Linked DNA regions of Homo sapiens: region 1 is linked to region 2. The links come from fine-mapping of genetic effects on gene expression. A gene starts in region 2. The other region holds a variant in brackets. All regions are shown on one strand. Distances are between the middles of the regions. Region 1 has its middle 12 kb from the start of PPIAP59. Region 2 holds the start of KLK8 (kallikrein related peptidase 8).

What was found. PIP is the estimated chance that this variant, and not a neighbour inherited with it, causes the effect.
Region 1: its variant is the best candidate, but not a certain one, in a credible set for the expression of KLK8 in tibial nerve (GTEx, PIP 0.77).

What each region holds. Positions count from the first base shown.
Region 1 is chr19:50,937,855-50,940,758 of GRCh38, reverse strand. No RefSeq gene overlaps it. Among named protein-coding and RNA genes, the nearest start is that of PPIAP59, 12 kb to the right of the region's middle. RefSeq lists a silencer at 1,558-1,721. The variant G/A (reference allele first, on the strand shown) is at 1,618.
Region 2 is chr19:51,000,492-51,003,395 of GRCh38, reverse strand. KLK8 (kallikrein related peptidase 8) reads left to right here and starts at 1,792. Exons shown (of 6, transcript NM_007196.4): 1 at 1,792-1,864; 2 at 2,221-2,298; 3 at 2,813-2,904. The coding sequence starts at 2,229. It overlaps KLK9 (kallikrein related peptidase 9), which reads left to right. Exons shown (of 5, transcript NM_012315.2): 5 at 136-888. The coding sequence ends at 285.

The sequences.
Region 1 (2,904 bases), 63 kb after region 2:
ATGGTAGAAGGGGAACCAAACATGTCCTTCTTCACAGGGTGGCCGAAAGGAGAAGGGCAAACTGAAGGGGGAAAATTATAAAACCATCAGATCTTGTGAGAACTCACTACTATCACAAGAATAGCATGGGGGGACTGTCCCCATGATCTAATCACCTCCCATGAGATCCCACCCCCAACACGTGGGGATTATGATTCAAATTAAAATCCAAGATGAGATTTGGGTGGGGACACAGGGCCAGGCCATATCAGTTATCAAAAGAATATCCATTAATTTAAATTGGAAAATGTCAGGGCAGAAGCAGCTGCCTGTGGGATCTCTATCCCTTCTCCCCTAGGTATGTGTCTTTCACGGTCTCTTTCTTCTCATCCCACCTCTGTTTTCTCATTACATTGACTGCCTGTTGCCTATCAAAGCATCTCTTCTCTCCCCCATAACTGGCTCCAGTTACTGGGTTTTCTTTGTTCATAGCCCCTAGAGAAAAAATCTGGTTGGCTGTCCTAGGGTCAGATGCAGACTCTATCTCTAGTCTGAAAGGTGGGCCCACAGAGTGCAACATGGATCCCCCAGCCACCCCTTCATCCATAGCAGTGGGCAGGGCAGGGCCCCTAAGAAGGTTGTGGGCGTGGTAGTCATTGAAATGGACAACACATCAACACATGGACATTCTAGTCTTCAGCACTTTCTGAGTGACCTGTGTAAAGGTCATTTGTACTTTTTCTGGACCTCAGTTTCTCTACCTGTAAAATGGGAGGATTGAAACGTAATGATCTCCACGTGCCAATCCAGCTCTAAGATTTCTCAAGATACTCACAGGTGGTTATAGAAAGTCACTCCAGGGAATACTTTGGAAATTGAACACTCTAGAAAAGGAATTACACTAGAAAATTTTGTCAGTAACAAAATACCCAACTCAAAGTGGGTTAAGCAATAAGGACGTGTATTATTTCACATAATAAGAAGCCCCAAAAGAGGGAAGTACTGTGGTTTGGTGATTCCTACATTACATCATTAGGGACCCATCTTTCTTCTCTACTGCCCTCTGCATTCATTCATTCATATATTTATTCAACTCATGAGCACCTATGAGAGCCAAGTAATATTATAGACACTTGGGATAGACTGATTAATAAAACAGACACCAAACCCCTGCCTTCCTTAAGCTTATGTTCTAGCAGGAAGAAGAAAATATGTCAGCTTTCTCCTTTAGGCTTGTAATCTCGTGGCTGTAAAATGGCTGCCACAGCTCCAGACATCACATCCTCACGCACCATGACAAAAGGCAGGAAGGAGAGACTCTGTTGGCAGAGCTCTCTTCATTAGGAAAGAAAGTCTTTTCCAGAGTCCCCCCACACCCCTGGATCTGTTCTTGGGTCTCAATGACCACTCATTGGAGAAGGTCCCAATGCTGACACTCTAGCTTCAAGAGAAGCTGAGAAAGTGAGTTTCTGACATTTCTCTGTCACGGGTGCAGTCCTTACCAGCAAGGAAGAAGAGATAAGAAGTGTCTGCCTGATGAACAGTCAAAGGTGTGAGAGAAGGACACATACATCAAAATGATCCAATAATTGTCACCTTTATCTTCCCCTTTGTGCCTAGCCATTTACAAGTCCTCAC[G/A]ACTTTTTAGGGGACATTCCAGAAAGACTGGGCTGCCAGGGTGTGTGGTGTGGTGTGAAAATAGGGGCAAATAGTACTGGGTGACAGTTGTAATTCAATGTTTGTTTTTTGTTTTTGTTTTTCTTTAGACAGAGTCTCACTCTGTCACCCAGGCTGGAGTGCAGTAGCGTATTCTCGGCTCACTGCAACTTCCACCTCCCCAGTTCAAGCAATCCCCATGCCTCAGCCTCCTGAGTAGCTGGGACTATAGGTGTGAGCCACCATGCCTGGCTAATTTTTGTATTTTTAGTAGAGACAGGGTTTCGCTATGTTGGCCACACTGGTCTCGAACTCCTGACCTCAGGTGATCTGCCTACCTCAGCCTCCCAAAGTGCTGGGATTACAGGCGTGAGCCATCTGGCCTCAATTTTTTTTTTCTTAATCTTAAAAAAATCTAGATAGGAGCAGAATCCTAGCTAAGGGGCAGTCTTGAGCACATTTTCCAAAATGATGTTTCCGGTTAAGCTGCTTTGAGGAACAAGAGAAGATTCATGCTGGCTTCAATAGTAAATAAGTTTTAATTTCACATATCAAGAAATCCAGGTAAGGGCAGCTCCAGACACAGGGCGTCAGGCTGTGTTTCGCTTGGTTCTCCTCGGCGGGGGGTCATCATCCTTAAGATCAACACCCGTAGTGGGTCTGTCTTTGAGAAGGATGATGCTTTTCCAGAAACCACCCCAGCAGAATTTTATCTTATTCTTACTGGCCAGAATTGGGTCACATGTCCTTTCCTAAACCAGTCACAGACTGGTGGGGTGGGGTGGGGAGTGGGGTGGAGAGGTTAACATGGTTGATTTGAACCAAACAGGATTATTCTTTCACGATGGAGTGGAGGACCTCCCCTAAAGCATGTAGAAGCTGCTCCTTGAGAGAAATCAGGATTCCGACATCAAAGAACGGGAGGAACAACCAATGATGTCTGCCCCATAGATGCCCTTGCAGCAATATTTTAAATTAACTTTTATTGAAAGATAATGCACAGGGCCGGGCATGGTGGCTCACACCTGTAATCCCAGCACTTTGGGAGGCCGAGGCGGGTGGATTACCTGAGGTCAGGAGTTCGAAACCAGCATGGCCAATGTGGCGAAACCCTGTCTCTACTAAAAATACAAAAATTAGCCGGGCTCGGTGGTGGGCACCTGTAATCCCAGCTACTCGGGAGGCTGAGGCAAGAGAATCGCTTGAACCTGGGAGGTGGAGATTGCAGTGAGCCAAGATCACGCCATTGCACTCCAGCCTAGATGACAG
Region 2 (2,904 bases):
AGAGGCTGGAGATGGAGGACTCTCGGATGTTGGAGGAGGAAGGGGCTGGGGCCTTTCTGGGAGGGAGGAAGTGGCCCGTGTAATTGTCATGAACAGAGTGGCCTAACAGTTCCTCTGCCCTTCTCTCGCGTACAGGGTGACTCTGGGGGCCCCCTGGTTTGCAATGGAACCTTGGCAGGCGTGGTGTCTGGGGGTGCTGAGCCCTGCTCCAGACCCCGGCGCCCCGCAGTCTACACCAGCGTATGCCACTACCTTGACTGGATCCAAGAAATCATGGAGAACTGAGCCCGCGCGCCACGGGGGCACCTTGGAAGACCAAGAGAGGCCGAAGGGCACGGGGTAGGGGGTTCTCGTAGGGTCCCAGCCTCAATGGTTCCCGCCCTGGACCTCCAGCTGCCCTGACTCCCCTCTGGACACTAAGACTCCGCCCCTGAGGCTCCGCCCCCTCACGAGGTCAAGCAAGACACAGTCGCGCCCCCTCGGAACGGAGCAGGGACACGCCCTTCAGAGCCCGTCTCTATGACGTCACCGACAGCCATCACCTCCTTCTTGGAACAGCACAGCCTGTGGCTCCGCCCCAAGGAACCACTTACACAAAATAGCTCCGCCCCTCGGAACTTTGCCCAGTGGGACTTCCCCTCGGGACTCCACCCCTTGTGGCCCCGCCTCCTTCACCAGAGATCTCGCCCCTCGTGATGTCAGGGGCGCAGTAGCTCCGCCCACGTGGAGCTCGGGCGGTGTAGAGCTCAGCCCCTTGTGGCCCCGTCCTGGGCGTGTGCTGGGTTTGAATCCTGGCGGAGACCTGGGGGGAAATTGAGGGAGGGTCTGGATACCTTTAGAGCCAATGCAACGGATGATTTTTCAGTAAACGCGGGAAACCTCACCTTCTTTCTGCCTGAGCTGTGAGATGAGTGGAGAGCAAACGGGTGGGCGGTGAAGGGCAGATGAGGGAACCGGTACCGCCTTGCAACTCCCCCTTAAACCCCTAGTAAGTTTTGCCTAAAGTCTCTGTCCATCAGCCCTATTGCAGCAAGACTCCTGGGTTCTGCTTGGGTTGGTCTTGCCGCCTCCAGGGGAAGGGGAAACCAGGTCACAGTGCCTCCCAAACCTGCCCTCCCAGATCCCGGACCTCTCAGGGGACAGCGGGCGGGGCCTGATCCACCCTCTGGTTTCTGACCCTAGAAGACCTGCCTTTCTTCGGTTCCCGGTTACTGGCAGCAGCCCCCTCCTCCCACAAAAGATCAGGTTCCAAGCTTCTCCTTTTAAAAGTACTTAGAATTCAGCCCCCAGCTCTCTCCTCCCTCACACCCAGGAATCCAGGCCCCTAGCCCCTCCTCCCTCAGACCCAGGAGTCCTGGCCCCTAGCAGCCCCCTCCTCCCTCAGACCCAGGAGTCTGGGCCCCCAGCCCCTCCTCGGTCAGACCTAAATCCCAGGTCCCAGTCCCTCCTCCCTTAGATTTAGGAGTCCAGGCCCCCAGCCTCTCCTCCCTCAGACCCAGGAATCCAGGCCCCCAGCCTCCTCCCCTCTCAGAACTAAAATCTTGGCCCCCAGCCCTTTATGTTTCAGATCGTAGAGTCTCAGCACCGAGTCCCTCCTCTCCCTAGCCTCAGGAGTCTGAGATTCCAGCCCCTCCTCCCTCAAGATTTCACGTTCAATCCCCTCCGCCCCTTCTCACTCACACCCAGTGTTCCAGTTCCCAGAAGCTCCCCAGGCTCTAGTGCAGGAGGAGAAGGAGGAGGAGCAGGAGGTGGAGATTCCCAGTTAAAAGGCTCCAGAATCGTGTACCAGGCAGAGAACTGAAGTACTGGGGCCTCCTCCACTGGGTCCGAATCAGTAGGTGACCCCGCCCCTGGATTCTGGAAGGTGAGGTGCAGAGGTACTCAGATACAGACATCAGGCCCCGGACCCTCCTTCTCCAGATTCCAGGACCCCAGCCTCAGATGCCCTTCTCTGTCGAGATCCAGCAGTCTGGACCCCGGCTTCCTCCTCTCCCTAATTTAGGAGTCCCAGCTCCCAGCTCCCTGTCCCCTCAGACCCAGACATCGAGGACTCCCCCCTCCCTTGGAATGTAGGAATCCAGTCCCCCAGCCTCCTCCTTCCTCCAGAGAAGCCCAGAACAGCCCCAGATACTCTCGGCTGCCTCCCCAGTGCCCAAATCCAGAACTGGGAGCTCAGGCTCCTCCTTCCTGTTTACCGGCCCCGCCCTCTCCATTTCCCAGACCTCACCATGGGACGCCCCCGACCTCGTGCGGCCAAGACGTGGATGTTCCTGCTCTTGCTGGGGGGAGCCTGGGCAGGTGAGGAGGGTTGCGGAGGCCTCCGGAGGGGAGGGATCTGAAGGCAGCAGTGGCGCTGGGGAGTCTGTGGGAATGCCGCGGGGGTTATGTGGGTGCGTGTGCACGGATGTGAAGAGTGCGATACGGTGCAGGAGCCTCTGTGGGCTTTCCTCAGGGTGGACAGAGGCAAGAAACAGGTAGCAGCAGGTAGGAGTAGGTTCCGTGATGCTGTAAATTGTCTGAATAGCTACAGCCTTTGGGGGCTGCTTGCTTGGGGGCATAGATTCACCTGGGAGTACTCGGGGCCTGTAGACTCATGTGGAAGCATGTGGGGGCATTCTTGGGTGTGTGACTCTTGTATGATGACACATGGACTGAAATGAGTGTCCCCGTGTGGCAGCGTGTGGAAGCCTGGACCTCCTCACTAAGTTGTATGCGGAGAACTTGCCGTGTGTCCATTTGAACCCACAGTGGCCTTCCCAGCCCTCGCACTGCCCCAGAGGGTGGCGATCCAACCCTCTCCCTCCTGCTGCAGGACACTCCAGGGCACAGGAGGACAAGGTGCTGGGGGGTCATGAGTGCCAACCCCATTCGCAGCCTTGGCAGGCGGCCTTGTTCCAGGGCCAG